Linked DNA regions of Homo sapiens. The protein of the gene in region 4 interacts with the protein of the main gene of each other region in a biochemical or structural test. Each region holds a gene or a part of one and is shown on either strand. Other genes may lie near its edges.

Region 1 (3,500 bases), on a different chromosome or scaffold from region 4:
GGGACTACAGGCATATGCAACCATGCCCAGCTAATTTTGTATTTTTTTTGTTAGAGATGGGGCCTCACTATGTTGCCAGGCTGGTCTCAAACTCCTGGGCTCCATTGATCCTCCTGCCTCGGCCTCCCAAAGTGCTGGGATTACAGGCACGACCCACGGTACCCAGGCTACTTTCTTGATCCACAGCTGAGGTGAGGGTCACAGGGCCATGGGAGGGACTGGGACAACCCTGACCCTGATGGAGCAGAGAAGCAGCTCCAGGGCTGAGCCTGGGGTGGAGGGAAACACCCAGACAGTAGATGACAGAGGCTGGAGCCCTACCTGTGGTGACTGCTGGGCTGGGGCCTGGAGGGGAAGCCCGGGATTTGGACACGGTCCCCATCTTCCCTTTGAAGCTGCTGTTCAGTCGAGACTCAAGCTCTGCATAGACGGCTGACATCTGGAGGGAGACGGGGGAGAGTCCAGCCCATTCTGCTTCCCCTCGTAGCCCTAATGTGGTCCAGGCCTGGGTGGGCCGGGAGGCAGGGATATGCCCCAGCCTGAAGCAGCACAGGGACGCCTTGGCCTGGGTCTCCTGGGCCCAGTCCTATGGACCGTCCATTCCCTGCCCCCTACTGACCCCACGTGGAGGGCAGAGAAGGTCTCACCATCTTGGGGTTGGGGGTCTCAGGGAGGGACGTGCCGTCGCCTGCCTGGCGCTCGCCTGGGATCAGGGGAAGAGGCATCTCAGGGCACTCGCTGGGACCTACCGGGGAATAATGTCATTACCGTATCTGAGCTCTACGGCTCAGGCCCCGGCCCAGAACCAACATGCCCCGCAGACCCAGGAGGGCCAATCCTGAGCCCTGCTTAGCCCCATTCCCTGGGATTCCCCACCTCACCAAGCCCATTTTGCAGGTGGGAAAACTGAGCTCCATTCATACCCTCCCCCTGACACCAGCCTTACCGCAGCTGAGGCCGGCCTCCAGGCCCTGGGACCGGAGGCTGCGGCGGCACATGGAGGAAGCCCGCAGGGAGCTCCGCGGCTGGGGCTCAGGCGTGGGCTCGGACTCCAGGTCCAGCTCAGGCTCCGGCTCTGCTGTGGGACATGCAGGGAACATGGGGCCCTCTTGCCCTCTCAGCCAGACAAGGGACCTCCAAAACAGGGAGGGGAGGGCAGATGTCATCTGCACCAATATGCAGACCCCAAGCTACGGGGCCTGCCCTGCTTGCCTCCAGAACAGCTCTTGAGGGGAAGCCCCAGGGCAAGAAACCAGGTGCCAGGAGCAGCACCAGAATGCAGCACCAGAATGCAGCTAGCCTGAACTCAGGGGCCTAGCAGAGATCTCATGACAACAGCTTCCAGAGTCTCAACGCCCTGTGCTTGCCCCAGGCCAAGTCACTGCTGCCCAGAGAGGATTATGGGCAAAATAGAAGTGTTTTTTTTTTGAGACTGAGTTTTGCTCTTGTTGCCCAGGTGGGAGTGCAGTGGTGCAATCTCAGCTCACTGCAACCTCCACCTCCCAGGTTCAAGCGATTCTCCTGCCTCAGCCTCCCAAGTAGCTGGGATTACAGGTGTCCGTCACCATGCCTGGCTAATTTTTGTATTTTTAGTAGAGATATGGTTTCAACATGTGGGCTAGGCTGGTCTCAAGTTCCTGACCTCAGGTGATCCGCCTGCCTCGGCCTCCCAAAGTGCTGGGATTACAGGTGTGAGCCACTGCTCCCGGCCAAAATAGAAGTTTTTTGAGCCTACGCAGATATGTAAGGCATGTGTGGTCCAGCATGGATCCTGAGCTTCTCGCTAAAACCCTAGCAAATTGTGGGTCCCTGGGACTGCAGCTCATGGGCACACAAGGACCAGCAACTCTGCAGCGGCCCCTTCCCTTTCCTTCCTTTCCTTTCCTTCCTTCTCTTCCTTCTCTCACTTTCTCTCTTTCTCTCTTTTCTCTCTCTCTGTCTCTTTCTCTCTTTCTCTCTTTATTTATTCAGAGTCTGGCTTTCTCATCCAGGTTGGAGTGCAGTGGCACAATCTCAGCTCACTGCAACCTCCACCTCCCAGGTTCAAATGATTCTCGAGCCTCAGCTTCCCAAGTAGCTGGGACCACAGGCATGCACCACCATGCCTGGCTAAATTTTTGTATTTTTTTTTTTTAAGCAGAGATGGGGTTTCACCATATTGGACAGGCTGGTCTTCAACTCCTAACCTCAGGTGATCCACCTGCCTCAGCCTCTGAAAGTGCTGGGATTACAGATGTGAGCCACCACACCTGCCTTTTTTTCTTTTCTTCTTTTTTTTTTTTTTTTTTGTGACAGGTCTCACTCTGTCCCCCAGGCTGGAGTGCAATCAAGGCTCAGTGCAGCCTTGAATCCCAGGCTCAACAGATCCTCCTGCCTGAGCCTCCCCTGCAGCTGGGATTACAGGTGTGTGCCACCACACCCAGCTAATTTCAAATTTTTTTGCTATGTTGCCCAGGCTGGTCTCCAACTCCTGAGCTCAAGTGCTCCTCCCACCTCATCCTCCCAAGTAGCTGGGACTACAGGTGCATACCACCACGCCTGGCTAATTTTTTATTTTTTTTTTCTTTGAGATGGAGTCTCACCGTGTTGCCCAGGTTGGAGTGTAGTGGTGCGATCTCAGCTCACTGCAACCTCCGTCTCCCAGGTTCAAGCAATTCTCCTGCCTCAGCCTCCCGAGTAGTTGGAATTACAACTGCGTACCACCACACCTGGCTTATTTTTGTATTTTTAGTACAGATGAGGTTTCCCCATGTTGGCCAGGCTTGTCTCGAACTCCTGACCTCACGTGATTGGCCTGCCTCAGCTCCACAAAGTGCTGGGATTACAGACGTGAGTCACCGCGCACGGCCACCCCTGGCTGATTTTTAAATATTTTGAATATATGGGGGTCTTGTTGTGTTGCCCAAGCTGGACTTGGAACTCCTGACCTCAAGTGATCCACCCACCTCAGCCTACCAAAGTGCTGGGATTACAAGAGTGAACCACTGCACCTGCAGCGGCTTTCATAGCAGGTGCAGGATGCCTAGAACAGGGTAGAACACAGGCTTCGGCACACCTTCCATCCACATGACCTGCATGCTGAGTGCAGGGGTTTGTGGGCATTCGGAGGGCACGCTGAACAGACAGGTGGCAGCCACACATGGCACTGCAGGCCTGTGTGTGTGCAAGAAAGAGTACACTGGGAGCCCACCAGCCAGGTGGGATGTGGTCGTGTGCTCATGATCCTGGTGGTGGTGTTGGCATGTCTGGCAACCACGTGAGTTTCTTTCTTTTTTCTTTTTTTCTTTCCTTTTTTTTTTTCTGGAGGCAGTAGCTTGATCATAGCTCACTGCAGCCTTGATCTCCTGCACTCAAGCCATCTTCCCACCTCAGCCTCCTAAGTAGCCGGGACTACAGGTGTGCATCACACCTGGCTAAATTAAAACTTTTTTTTTTTTTGGTAGAGACAGGCTCTTGCTATGTTGCCCAGGCTAATCTTGAGCTCCTGAGCTCAAGTGATG
Region 2 (4,263 bases), on a different chromosome or scaffold from region 4:
TTCTGCTGTGCAGCCCAGTTCCTAACAGGCCACAAACGGGGAGTTGGGGACCCCTGATCTAGTAAACATCTAGGCAGGGTTTTGGATAATGGAGTTAGAGTTCCTGGGGAGAGGTCAGGCTGGCCATGAAACATGGGATGCCTTTGCATATAGGTGGTGTTGAAAGCCACAGGACAGTACGGGGTCTCAGGGGGTGAGCATAAAGAGAGGCGACATCAGATGGCCAAGGCCAGAGGCAGAGGAGGATGGGAAGGAGGGGCCAGTGGGGCAGGGGGAAGCTGTGAAGCCAGGGAAAAAGGGTGTTTCGCGGAAAAGGATCAACCTGGACCAGTGCTGCCCCTAGGCAGGGCAGGATGAAACTTAACCACCACGGATTCCATGGCCCCATGGCCTCCAGGCCACAGGGGACCTTGAGAAGAGAGATCTCAGGGGACGGGTGCGGACAAGAGCCCGCCTGGCATGGCTTCAAGAGATAACTGAAGGAAAGCAAGTGGAGACGCGATAAACAGACAACTCCCTGGAGGAATTTTACTCTCGAGAGGAGAATTAAAGGGTAGTAGCTGGAGAGGGATGTGGGGTCAAGAGAAGGTCTTTAACGACGAGAACTCTCACGGCGGTTTGTGCAGAACAGGGTGGGTGTGATGACTGTGGATGGAGAGGGGAGAACTGCAGCGACTCTGTCCTAGGAGGAGGTGATGGGCCGGGACCACCAAGCGAGTGGAGGGTGGACGCCCCTTCCCTCACCCCGACACCCGCATGTGCTCAGTGTCCGTGCCGCCGGCCCTAGTGCCTGGGCTGAACGCGGGGCCGGGACTCTGAGGACGCCTCCCAGGCGGCGCAGTCCGCTCTGGCCAAGGTGGAGCGGGACGCGGCGCTTCCGACGGTGCGCGGGTCGGCTCGGGGTTGCAGGGACATCCGGCGTCCGCTCCTGCCCTGTTTTCCTGCCTTCGGCAGAGCGTTGCGCAACTCTAGCTTTAAACGCCCCTGTCCCCCTCAACTTGTCTCCCCCAGCCCCTCTGATTTACAGATTCTGCAGTCCCCGAGGGTTGCGCCTACGATACCGACACTCGCGGCAGCCCTGCGAGGCGAGTATGATCGTCCCATTTTTCGGAGTAGCAAACTAAGGTTCAGAGACTACTATGTCCCAGGTCGGTCTGGTTTGAAGGTCCGCTTTCCTCTCCCTCCGCCAGCGGGCGGTGCGAGGGACTGGGCGAGGCAGCGCTTCCCTAAGGAGGCGACCCGCAGCCCCGGCCCCCTCCCGACTCCGCCCCGTTGCAGGGCCCGGGTCGGCGAGGCCTCTCAGCTCTAAGCCCGACGGGACTTGGTGATTGGGCAGGACGGAAGAGCTGGGTGGGGCTTTCCACCAGCGGAGAAAGTCTAGTGGGCGTGGTCGCGACGAGGGCGTGGCCTGGTGCCCCGCCCCCGTCCGCGCGCTCAAAGTGGAGGGTGGCTGTGGGGGCGGGGTCAGAACACTGGCGGCCGATCCCAACGAGGCTCCCTGGAGCCCGACGCAGAGCAGCGCCCTGGCCGGGCCAAGCAGGTATCGACGACCGCGCGGGGCGTCTTGGGCTGCACCAGGCGGGCGCCCGGGGCCTGCTGAGGACCACAAAGGGCACTGGGGGTCGTGGTCCAGGCTGTGCTTCCTCCCGCTGGCCCTGGCCCCTGCCTCCGCCCCCGCCCCCGCCTTCCTGCCGCTAAGCCGGCTGCGGCGGGGCCGATTGGCGCCTGCGCCGCTTCCTGCGGCCGGGGCCAGTCTAATGCATGGGGCCCGGGCGGGGGACTAAGGGGAAACTGAGTCACGTCGGTGTGGGAGCAGTTCTGTGTGGGAGGCACCACCCCCCACTGGGCTCGGGGAAGGATCCCCCTCCAAGCTATGCTTGAGGGTCCCAGCCCCCATCTGTCTCCACAGGGGCCGCACCCCACTCCCGCCTTCCCCTTCTTCAGCACCCAGGGGTCCCGCCCTGGCTCCCAGCAGCCTCGACTGGTCCCGGAATGGCTAGGAGGATCCGCTGCAGCCGCCTCCCTCCCCTCCCCTCCCCTCCCCTCCCCTCCCCCCCCCCTCGCGTCCCAAGCCCCCGTGTGCTCCCTCCGCTGGCTCTCCGCACAGTGTCAGCTTACACGCCTTATATAGTCCGAGCAGGCTCCAGCCGCGGCCTGCCTGCCGGGACCTGGGGGCGGGGGAGAGGAGAGCCGGCCCCTGACTCACCCGGCCGCCCGAGGCTCCAGGCTGGCTTGGGGGGAGGCCGCGCCAGTTTAGTCCCTCGGCCCACCCCTGGTTGCAAAGAACCTCAAGCCTGGATTCAGGCACCCCTCACCGTTCCAGTCCCAAGGGGAGGGGGGCTGCTCCTGTCTTTCCAAAGTGAGGTCCGCCAGCCAGCAGCCCAGGCCAGCCTGACAAAATACCTGCCTCCTATGGCTTGGGCGTGCTCAGGGGCTGCCCGTGCCTGCCTGGCCCCTGTCCAAGGCTGGTATCCTGAGCTGGCCCGGCCTGCCTGCCTGCCCGCCCACCATGCTGGCCACTCACCTTCTCTTCTCTCCTCTCAGGAGCCGGCATCATGGATTCCTTCAAAGTAGTGCTGGAGGGGCCAGCACCTTGGGGCTTCCGGCTGCAAGGGGGCAAGGACTTCAATGTGCCCCTCTCCATTTCCCGGGTGAGCCTAGGTTTGGGGAGGGGGCTCCCCCAGCGGTCTTTCGGTGCTTAGGTCTCCAGAGGGTGATGGGGGGAGTCCTAACAGGAGCTGGTCAGGGGCCAGCAGGCCAGGAGATGTCTAGGTCCGGAGATGTAGTGGTACCTGCCTGCCACAAGGACTCCCAATGAGGTGGATACTGGGAGGGAGCACCCAGGCTTCTCCAGCCCTGCACTGTACCCGATGCTGTTCTCCCAAGCTCCTGTGGCCACCTCTGAGGGCTGGAGGGAGGCTCATTGTGCAGGATGGGAGCCTAACATTTCAGGAGGTATCTAAACTTGAGGTGGCAATGCTTGGAGCCAGGCCCCAGGCAGGACACTGTGACTATAGGATTTCACTTCAGCCTCACTGCCGCCCAGGGAATAGCAATCCTCATCCCGTTTTTCCAGATGAGAGAAGAACTCATGGAGAGGTGGCGGGGCTCGCTCATCGAGTCCATGGTGAAGCAGGGATTGGAATTGAGGCACAGCATGGCGTACATTTTTTGTGGGTAGAAGGGGTCTCTCCCCAGCCTATGTAAGGACCCACATCCACTGTTCCCATTCAGGATGTGGTGGCCTTTGACCCCAAGCAGAAGTGTAGGACAGGGCTCCATTCTAGGGGCTTAACTTCAGCTTCCAAGAGCCTGCCCTGGTGTGGGTGGAGCTGGAGGCTGGCTCCTCCCTGTAGCAGGGGGATTGCCTTATAAGCCCAAGAATGCAGCCCCACGCTGGGATGGCCAACAGTGGCTGCGGTCTGCAGAGCTGAAAAGGGCTGGCCTAGGCCTGGCCCCCTGAACCCCACTGGTGGGCCTCTCAGCTGGTCACCAGGCTGCAGCTCCAGCTATATGGTCCAGTTGTGAGACACAACAAATTGCCTGCCCAGAGTGGGTGAGGCCAGCCTGTCGGCTGGCATCTCTGACTGGCCTGGGGGTCAGGAGGGGGTGGGGACTTCCTGCCCCTATATCCGCCTGCCCCAAGAGACCCACCCAGGCGCCGGGTGGGCAGGCAGCTGTTGTCAGGAAGCCCAAGGCAAGCCCAGCCTGGAGGGGCCCAGAGGGTCGTGGCCTGAGGAGGGGCTCAAGCTGGAGTCTGTCTGTAGGAGCTGGGCGTGGGGGTTAGGGTGGGCAGGCCAGCAGTGCTCTTCTCAGGGGTCCTTTGATGGCATTCTCCTGGAACCTGCCCCGCCAGCAGGGTAGTGAGGCAGTGGTTGCCCTATGACACACGTCCCACTACATAGCCCTCACACAGCCCTGAAACCTACCTGACGTCCTGCTCCCTGGGAAAGTGCTGGCCCAGTGTGTCTGGGGAGCCTGAACCTCAGTTTCTTCCCTGATGGAGATGACTTTCAGATATGGCCTGTTGGGGGCACTCCGGGCTCCAGCTCCCTGGTCAGCATCCCTGGCATGTGGGCGGGGCCACTAGCTGATCCCAGCCCTGGAGTTGGACCTGGGCCCACATGGGTGGGTGAGGTGGGCTTTTCTGAGTTAGGCCAGCCCCCTCCCCCTCCCCTGACCCCAGAATGGAGGGAGGTGGGAGGGGCAAGGGCTGGCTGTGGGCCCAGGCCTGGGAGATGAGGTAACGTCTGGGACTGGGGG
Region 3 (3,500 bases), on a different chromosome or scaffold from region 4:
GGGGAGCTGACGCAACCTGTCTGCTTGGCTCTAACCCACTTGATCTTTTTGGGCAAGATGTATCAAATCAGTTCACAGCCCTGCCCCCAAACCCTCCCCAGTGTCCGCATTGACTACTGAGCTCATTGGCTTGACTCCCAAGGCCTTTCATGAGCTTCTCTAGCTTCCTTTTCAGCCTTATCTCTCACTCCTCGCCACGCTCCTCACACTGCCTAGCTTTAGCCTCAAAAAATGCCAGGCTTTCTTGCCTTGAGGCCTTTGCACGTGCTCTTCCTTCTTCCGCTTTGCCTCCTAGGTCTTAAGTTGGGCGTCACTGCCTTCTGGAAGCCTCCCTTGAGCTTTTCCTCTACTCCAGCCCTCTTCCTTATTATAGCACCTGTGCTTCCTCCGTCTCCACGCTGATGGTGTGGCGGGTGCCTACTTTTCTTTGTTCCCCACCAGACTGTCTTGAGAAGGGAGACTGCAGCTGTCTATCCAGCAGGGATTCCCAGTGCCCTGCATAGTGCCTTGGCATATAGTAGGTGCTCAATAAGCATGTGTTGAATGAATAAATGAATGACTAAATAGTATGGTGAGAACATGGGACAGTGCCTGTGGATAGATCTGGCCCTGAAAACCCCCCTATGGCCGGTGCTGGTGTGGCAGGCACAAGTGTCAAGCCAACACAGGTGTTTGTTTCCATGACTTGGGGCCTGCTGGTGGCTGGGCTGACTGTGTGGGCGTGTGGTCACTCACACTTCCTGCTGCAGCACTGATGACAGCTTGCCAGGGGCATGCAGGGAGGAGGAGGGTGGGTGGTACAAGGGTGAGAGGTGGGCCAAATGAAGCCAACCAAGCAACAGCCCCCTGGCTTTTGAGGCTGGGACAACCCTGGCTTTGATGTCGCTTGTGACATTTATAGTCCAGTTCTTCAGAGGCTCCTTGTGTTGGGGGGCTTTTAACCTTCCCTGGGCTCTGATCAGGAACTAACAGTGGGAACTTGGTGATGCCTTGAAGAATCTGAGAAGTCTGGACTCTGTCTTGAATCTTGATCCTGACTCAAAGTTTTGCTGACACTGAGATTGCTAAGATCCCAGGTTTGCAGCTTCACCCAAATTTTCTTTTACTCTGGACTATCAATAACCATAGTTAATGTCTACTGAACATCCACGATGTGCCTGCCACTCTTGCCATTCTTAACTTAGAATGTGTCCATGTATTAACTTATTTGATTCGAATAGGTAGCTGCCATTAGCATTCCTATTTTTGGACAGGGATGCCCAGGCTCAGATAGATGAAGTAGCATGTGTTCAGTTACCTAGCTAGTAAGTGGCACAGCCAGGATTCAAACCCAGGCAGGCCAACTCCCTGCTACTCCAACTTGCCATCTTTATGTTCCCTGCACTTGCAATGCCCTTGCTCCCATCCTCCATGTGTTGCCATCCCTCAAGGCTCAGCTCGTAAGCCCTCTACTCTACAGAGGTGTCTTCAATCTTCAGTTAGAATGAATCCCTCCCATAGCGCATGGCTTATGCATATTTTATAGCAGAAGCCTGCCTGGGCAGCAGCTCATCCTTCAGATGGCAAAGTCCTGGAAAGCACAGGCATGTCAATCTCCTCTGCATCCTCTTCAGCACTGCTCCCCTCTCCCCTTCACAGAGAGAGGCCCCAGGCAGGTACTCAATCAAAGTGGAATCAAATTTGTTGAGGAAAAGCTACTGCTCATCTTGATGGAGGCCACTTACAGAGAAAAATGTTGTGCAAGGCTAACTCAGCTCTAGAAACCAGCTCCTGGCTGGGCTCTGGGGAAAGATGTCCCGAGAACAGGCAGATTTCTTCCTGTCAAAGCTGCAGGGCTCACGACCCCAACCAGAGGTCCAGAAAGGGTCCCTCTGAGAGTCTCCCGCTGGAAGCTTCAGCCTTGCTGGCATCTGGCACTTTCTTCACTCCCACCTTCCTTGTAAGCTCTCCTGAGTGCTCTGAGATGCTTGTCCTGCTCTCCACGCAGGAACTCAAATCCATGCAGGGAAGGTTAATAAAAACCACTGGTCAGGTGCTATTGACTATGCCCTCCCTCAGCAACCCCTGCTACCCTCAGCTGACATGAGATGCCTTTGCACTGACTCAAGCCTGGCCTCATGGCTACGGGAGTGGAATAATATTTTGTTTTTCCCTTCATGGGATCCAAGCTCCCTGTCTTCCTCAGAGATTGCATGTTTCAAAATAGTCTTTGGATTACGAATAATTAATAAGAAATATGTCTTTTTCAGAAAGACACTGTTCATCTTCCTAACATCCAAGAAAAACATTCCTATTCTTTTAATAGTAAATTATTTCTAGGAACTCTCTCATCTTCATTTTTTCTATAGCTGGAAATTGGCCAGAAATTTCTGGGTATTACACTTCAAGCCAGTGCAGTTGGCCAGTACTGTAGAAAATGGCACTGGAATGTCCTAATACTGCATTTGATGGTACAGTGTTATCACTTCATTTACAGAGCCAAATACGCCCCTGCTTCCTCCTCCCCTCCCTTTTTTTCCCGTTAAATCAGGAGCCATTTCCCATATTCAAGGCTTTCTGGGATAATATCAGGAAGTGACTGGATGTGACAGAGTGCTGGCTATTCATTAACATAGACTTCCAAGTCCTACATTGAAAGTTACCAGCCTACACTAGCAAAGAAGAGCTAAGAGAGAGCAATGAATATCAAATGGACACACCGTTGCTTACCCCAAAGGTCCCAGGCCATTCACCATACAATACAGCACTTCAAAATCAGTGAGAACCACCATATACATGCAGGATGTCCACACATGCACACGGAGGGGGCATTCCTGGAAAATGGGGTGAGATGATGTTTCTTTCTGTCTCCACTCTCAGGAGCAGTGGAGGACATGGGAAACAGCAGTTCTCCCCACTCTTCCTACTTCCAAACATAGCATGCAGAACAGGGACATTACCTTTGGGGTGGGTGGGAAGCTCTGTTCAGGGACAGGGGAGTTAGTGGGCTTCCCACTGTGGTTCTTTGCCTCCCAGTCCTCCACTGGATTGCCTGTGTCCCCAGTGCGGAAGGGATGGTTGCTCAGTGCTTCTTCCAGCGCCGAGGGCAGTGGGCGGGTGGGAGTGAGGTCTTGGGTGGGAACGGATGGCGGGGGAGGGATGGGAATGGGGGGTGGAGTGCGCTGCACCCATGGAGAGGATGAGGCGCTCACATGGCCAGATAAGGGAAGGACAGGGGGCGCCGGGACCTTGTGGGGTGGGTTGGAGGGTGGAGGGTGGGGCATCACAGGCAAGGCAGAGGGAGTCTTGGGGGGATAGTAGAACATGTCCAAAGGGATGTCGTCCAGGTCAGTGGTGTGCAGGTGCAGTCCGCCTGCGAAGCGTCTCAAGGGTGGGGCCAGGGGAGACACAGAAGGCGGGGGAGGCGGGGGCCCTGTGGTCATCTGGGGGTGTTGCAAGGAAGTTCTGTAATTGTCACTCTGCTTAGAGCTCCACTTCACAATACAGCGAGCACTATGCTC
Region 4 (5,567 bases):
CAATACACTGTCTATGCCAAACCCCAAGAGGCCATCTGTAACCCAAGAGGCCATCTTACTCTGTGACTGCTCAGCCTTCAGCCCTTCTAACTACATGTTGGGTTTAGTAAAAAGCAAAATTTAAATGTGGGATATCTGCCCCTTCTAAGGACAGGGATTCCATTAAGGTGTGAGAGCCAGAAAAGTGATCTCCAGTCCTGGACTTGCTGGTTGGTCAGATCTGGCACTTTAATGCACCAGATCCAATAATGAGATCTGGCACCTGTATATTTCAGTCCTGAACTCTTAGGGTTAAAGGCGGCTTGGCTACTTGAGTGTGGGATAGGGGAAAGGAGAACAAGCCCAAGGAGGGTGAAGAGAGTGGGCTCCTAAGGTGAATTTACTGGAAGGAGGACTGCCACGTGAGGGAATTGATAGGGCTCACTTCTCCTGGTCTTCCCATCCCCAGAGTTTAAGGACGGTCCCTGCACTAGCTTAGTAGCTGCCAAGCAGTGTTAACACATCTCTGGAAAGGTGGGCTTAGGCTGTGAGGCTGCAGCGAGGATCTGGGAAATGCAGACCTCACCAGAGATTCTGGTCTTTGGAGGGATTTAGGTGAAACTGTGCTCTTATGGTATTATTTATTGCTGAGACATAGTATAGGCAACAGAAAGATGTTGCAGATTCTAGAAAATTCTGGCTAGGTCAGTGTCCGTTGGCAAAAGAAGAGGGAATAGTGGGGGATATGGTCTGGGAGTAGATGGCTAGAGAAGGGGCTGCAGAAAGAAGGCTGCTACCCACAACTGCAGCATTATGTGTATGGGAGATAAATTCACTTGTCATATTTCAAATCAGGTTTACAGGTATTTCTCCCCCGTCCGCTCCCCCCACCCAGCTGTGGCTTAACAGGTAGTCTTCTCAAATTTTAATTACAATTGGTAATATATTGGCGTCTAAAGTCTAGGTCTGACTAAGATGATGGTTTGTGTGTATGTGTACGTGACTATAACAGAAAGAGCTTCTAAAGTCTTCCGATGTGGTGGGAAAGGTGCTGCGCTAGGCATCAGTCGTTCTCTTCCCAAGAGAATCTCCCATCTCTAATGTCAGACTGCTTCAGGAGGTGAAAAGGGTGTGGGTGTTGCAGTGAATTTCCCCAGCCCAAGACACACACACACACACACACAGACACACACACACACGCGCGCGCGCGCGCGCGTTAACAAGTTTGGGGGGGGCGGAAAAACAAACTCCTGCTGATGGCTGGGAAATCCAGCTAAAAGCACAAGGCAGGCTCCTATAGCATAGGCGAGCCAGACAGACGCCCAGATAGCCTCAGCTCCCGAGCGCGAAGCCCAGCTGCTGCCGGGGCACTCTCGACTTGCTCTCGGGGAGGCTGCAGGCTGCGGAAAGCCGGGGCGCCAGCCTCCCTCATCACACTCCTTTCCCGAATCACCTCAAACTCTGTACCCAACGGCAAAGCTCAGAAATGCAAAAAACCGAAGAGGGTCAAATTGTACTTCAATCCAAAGGAGGCTGAACACCCGCCCCCCCCGCACCCCCCCCCCCCACCACACACACACCATGCCGCTTAATTTCTTTTCCCGGCTTAGATAAAAAGCATTACTTGCCCATCGAGGCTTGGAGATGGGGGGCAAGAGGTTGGTCCGAGGCTAAGCTCACCTGCTGCTGAGGTGAGAGAGCAGACACAGGATGGAAGCTATTCTGACCAGCAGCTAAGTGGTTGGGGGATTGCAAAGACCCTCAACTTCGCCTCTGGCTTTTTTTTTTCATTCGTGTCACTAAAGGGTTAAACACGGCAAGGCTCCAGCCCGCCCCCCAACCTCCACGCCGCTCCACTCCCCCTCCCCTTTTTGTCTCTCCCCTCCCCTCCCGCGCGTCGCTAGGAGGTCATCAAGCGCTCTGCCCAGTCCGCGTTCGCAAGCCCCTCTGCTTCCCGCCCATCGGACCCGTGGCTGCTTACGAAGAGGTGTGCGCACACTGAGGGGCGTGTTCCAGCATAGGGAGACGCTGAGCGCCCACGGGTTAGACCTCAGAGCCAAGCCAGCCATGGAGTGGGATGGGGGAAAGTTTGGCACCCTGCGAGGGGCTGCCGGACTGGAGTGGGCGGGGCGCCCGAGGGTACTTTAGCCTTCCAGGCTTAGGGACTCAGGCTGCCCAGACCTGAAGCGGTGTGCGGCCATGGACCGCGGAGCTGCCGCAGCCCAGGGCACTGCCCCGCCTCAGGATGGAGAGCAGCCCGCTGAGTCTCCAGAGCCTCCGCCGCCTTGGCCGCCGCCGCCACCACCACCGGCTCCGCCGCCGGCTCCGCCGCTGCTCTCCGAGGCTTCGCCAGAACCCATACCAGAGCCCTGTCCAGAGCTTGCTCCAGGTCCCTGTCCAGAGGCGACCTCAGAATCAGCCACAGAACTGTACACAGAACCGACCCCAGAACCAGCCACAGAGCCGGCCTCAGAACCGGCCCCAGAACCTGCCACAGAGCCGGCCCCAGAACCTGCCACAGAGCCGGCCCCAGAACCGGCCCCAGAACCTGCCACAGAGTCTGCCCCAGAGCCGACTCCAGAACCTGCCCTAGAGTCGGTCCCAGAGCCGGCCCCAGAGCTGACTCCAGAAGTTGCCCCAGAGCTGGCCCCAGAGCCGACCCCAGAACCTGTGACAGAGCTGGCCCCAGAGTTCTGCCCTGAGGCGGCTCCAGAGTTCCGTCCAAGTCCAGCACCATGTCTATTGCAATGTCCGGTGGACACTCGAGAGAGAGGTCTAAAGACCTCGCCATCGCCATCGCCATCGCCATCGCCCAGAACGCCAATGTCGTGGTCCAGAATAAAGGTAAGCAAAAGACCCCCTGAAGCGGGGAAAAGAAGCAAGGCGAAGTCAGATGGCTATGGAGCCCGCGGGACTCCGGGTACCCCTTGCATCCCGCTTGTCTGGCACTGGCTGGCCAAGATGCTGAGAAAGATGCAGGGATGGGGAACCCGGGGGAATGGGAAGGGGTTGGGAGGCGGGAAGCAACATGTGGGAATCGAGAATGGGCTGTTTGGGGCTAGAAACGGGGGTGACAGCAGGGGGTGGGAATCGGAGCAGTTTTCCCCTTGAAGAGAAGCGACAGTGCGGTGAGCGCCAATATCTTGAAAGAGAGGAGGAAGATACCCTCGGGGAGCGCAAGAGACCTGGAGAAGTGTTTGGGGCTGGCCCCGAATACATAGCGGACGGATTGAGTGGGGGCGGTGGGACACACCTCTTAGCCGCGGTCACTGCCGCAGAGGCCCAAGCTGCGGAGCCTTCGCCTGCTTGGCCCCCTCCCTGCCACTGGGGAGGGGGCGCCTCAGCTGGGCGCAACTGGCGGCCCTCCAGGGAGGTGCCCGGCGCCTCTGCCGGCTGCTTCGAGCTGGTACTCCTGGTGAGGACGAGGGGATGGGCGGCGCCCACGCGCACTGCAGGGGAAGGGCAGGGTTCTCCGGGAGGAGGGGGAGAGCATGCGTGTGTCGAAGCCACCATTCCATCTGTCTGCAGGATTTCCCAGCAGGTAGGTGCAAACGCAGTGATACAATGTTGCGCAGCGTCACAAACGGGGCAACTGGCATCCCGCACCAGGGCCAATTGGAATGGTACAGGAGTCCTGGTTTAGAGACACGAAAATAGGAGTTGGGATTGCAGAACGTGTGAAGGGGAACCTTCATCTCTACCAGTCTACCGCGACGCCTTCTAAATCGTTACACTTAGCCGGGAAAAGATGAGTGGAGAATCTTCTGGCACTCGCCCAAGGGGAGTAGGGAGGAAAAAGGTTTTCGTGTTTACCTTGGACCCTGAAACCCCGTCTGCTCTTAAGCGGGAGTATGCCTGTCTTTCCTGCTTTCTCTGCACTCTCCCTACTCTTCCTTTACCCTAAACTTCGTTCCACAAAACTGAAAACCAGGATAATGCACACACACACCTCAATTTAGCTTCCCCTGCAGGAAGACATACACACGCGCGCGCATTCACACACACACACACACACACACAAACGAATAACACAACACACGAACAATACCGGTCCATCCTGCTGCCTAGCAGACCATAAGGACACGGCTCAGGAACCCTTCTGCTGTGGACCGCACACTTATAGAATGTAGAATGCGGGAGGGGAGGGGGCAGATTGGCATCACGAAATGGAAGCATTGGTTGCTTCCTGAGTTCTTAGTAGGGAGGCTTGAGTTTGCAAAATATCTGCAATGACGAATAACTGAAAAAGAAGGCTAAAATGAAAAGTTTCACAGAGAAAAGAAAGTGCAGAGGTTTAAAAATAAATAAAACATGACGGTGGGAGACTCTGATAAGTTTTTAAAAATTCAACACCCTAGCTCTCACCAGGGGATGTATCCCTCCCCTTCCTGAAAATACCCTTTCCTGCAGTGATCTTAAGAAGGGCAAAGTTGGGGTGGCTAGATTTGGGAGCTCACCCTCACCGGGTGATTGATCTTGTCTTTTTGGAAGAGTTTGCATTAAGCTGGTGGGAAAGAGACAAGCAGGAATCACCTGACCTGTGGCCATCTTAAGCGAAATTTTGGGAACATGGCTGTGAAACTGACACGTGGGGACGTAATACCCAGAGAATGCATCTCCCCTTTGGCCTCTGAAAGGCTGACTGGCGACCAGGACCCTTCCCCCAGTGAAAAGCATCCCCTGCTCCCATGCGAAAGCATCTCCTACCTGTTTGACAGGAAAATGTCATTGCCAGACAGATGAGGAAGATTAAGGTAAGGGGAATCAGATTAGTTTCCTCTACGTAGTGCCCACTCAGACGTGCTGGCTAGCTGACCCACAGACATCTGGCAACACTGGCAGGAGACCAGGATCCCAGGGGTTTGACTTTGCCCTTAGTAGAGCCAGACATTTGTTGAATCACTTATCTGTAGAATGGGGTTAAGAACCACGACCATCCGTTAAGAAGGCCATGCAGATTAACTAATCAGTGGCTCTGGAGAATTTTGAAGGATGTAAAGGATCTAGGTACGTGCTCAAATTAAATTGCTTGGAGCCAAACCCTTTTACAACACCCTCAATGTTGCTATGCAATTGCTCTCTGGTGCAGCTGGGAACATCTGATCTTCAGTGATAGGATCATTCTCTCCTGCATCTTCCTCAGACAAATGGCACCTGCAACCAGCTGGCTTGTATCTTAACATTCAAGGCAAACAGGTTGTCATCTTAGCTGGGGTGATGTTGTTTTCAAACACTGCCTCCTCGAGGCAAGCTTGGGGGGAAAAAACTGTGCAACACGCACAGGCGTGCACACACCCCTAACACACACACATACTATACATATGTGCCCAAAATGTCAGGGAACAAAACAAAATACAGGTCTCATCATGCAATGAAATCCTCCATAGCAAGCATGAAACTATCCTGATAATTCAAAGGATGAAATGAGCAAAACCAAGTGTTTGAATATGACTGCAAGTTTCTCCCAGATAATTTTGTTGACTGGTATTGTAGCAAAAAACCAACATCTTTCAGCCTTGTAGTCTGCTCTTTTTTGGAATTTCAGGAAAGTTTCAGAACCTGCAATTGACTGAGAAAAGGGGGCTCAT

The links. The genes of interacting proteins can lie anywhere in the genome.
Region 1: the proteins of DGKK (region 4) and GRID2IP interact in a test that uses a peptide from one of them, tested with the Homo sapiens proteins (one large-scale study listed by IntAct).
Region 2: the proteins of DGKK (region 4) and PDLIM7 interact in a test that uses a peptide from one of them, tested with the Homo sapiens proteins (one large-scale study listed by IntAct).
Region 3: the proteins of DGKK (region 4) and USH1C interact in a test that uses a peptide from one of them, tested with the Homo sapiens proteins (one large-scale study listed by IntAct).

Annotation. Positions count from the first base shown.
Region 1 is NC_000007.14:6,509,962-6,513,461, forward strand, and holds part of GRID2IP (delphilin), read right to left. Parts: intron 1,079-3,500; coding exon 947-1,078; intron 746-946; coding exon 648-745; intron 440-647; coding exon 322-439; intron 192-321; exon of another isoform or gene 55-191; intron 1-54.
Region 2 is NC_000005.10:177,494,805-177,499,067, reverse strand, and holds the start of PDLIM7 (PDZ and LIM domain protein 7), read left to right. Parts: upstream 1-1,463; 5' UTR 1,464-1,540; intron 1,541-2,544; 5' UTR 2,545-2,555; coding exon 2,556-2,651; intron 2,652-4,263. UniProt on the Homo sapiens protein: May function as a scaffold on which the coordinated assembly of proteins can occur. May play a role as an adapter that, via its PDZ domain, localizes LIM-binding proteins to actin filaments of both skeletal muscle and nonmuscle tissues.
Region 3 is NC_000011.10:17,506,417-17,509,916, forward strand, and holds part of USH1C (harmonin), read right to left. Parts: intron 3,423-3,500; coding exon 2,940-3,422; intron 2,814-2,939; coding exon of another isoform or gene 2,706-2,813; exon of another isoform or gene 1-2,705. UniProt on the Homo sapiens protein: Anchoring/scaffolding protein that is a part of the functional network formed by USH1C, USH1G, CDH23 and MYO7A that mediates mechanotransduction in cochlear hair cells. Required for normal development and maintenance of cochlear hair cell bundles.
Region 4 is NC_000023.11:50,467,290-50,472,856, reverse strand, and holds the start of DGKK (diacylglycerol kinase kappa), read left to right. Parts: upstream 1-2,031; 5' UTR 2,032-2,178; coding exon 2,179-2,823; intron 2,824-5,567. UniProt on the Homo sapiens protein: Diacylglycerol kinase that converts diacylglycerol/DAG into phosphatidic acid/phosphatidate/PA and regulates the respective levels of these two bioactive lipids.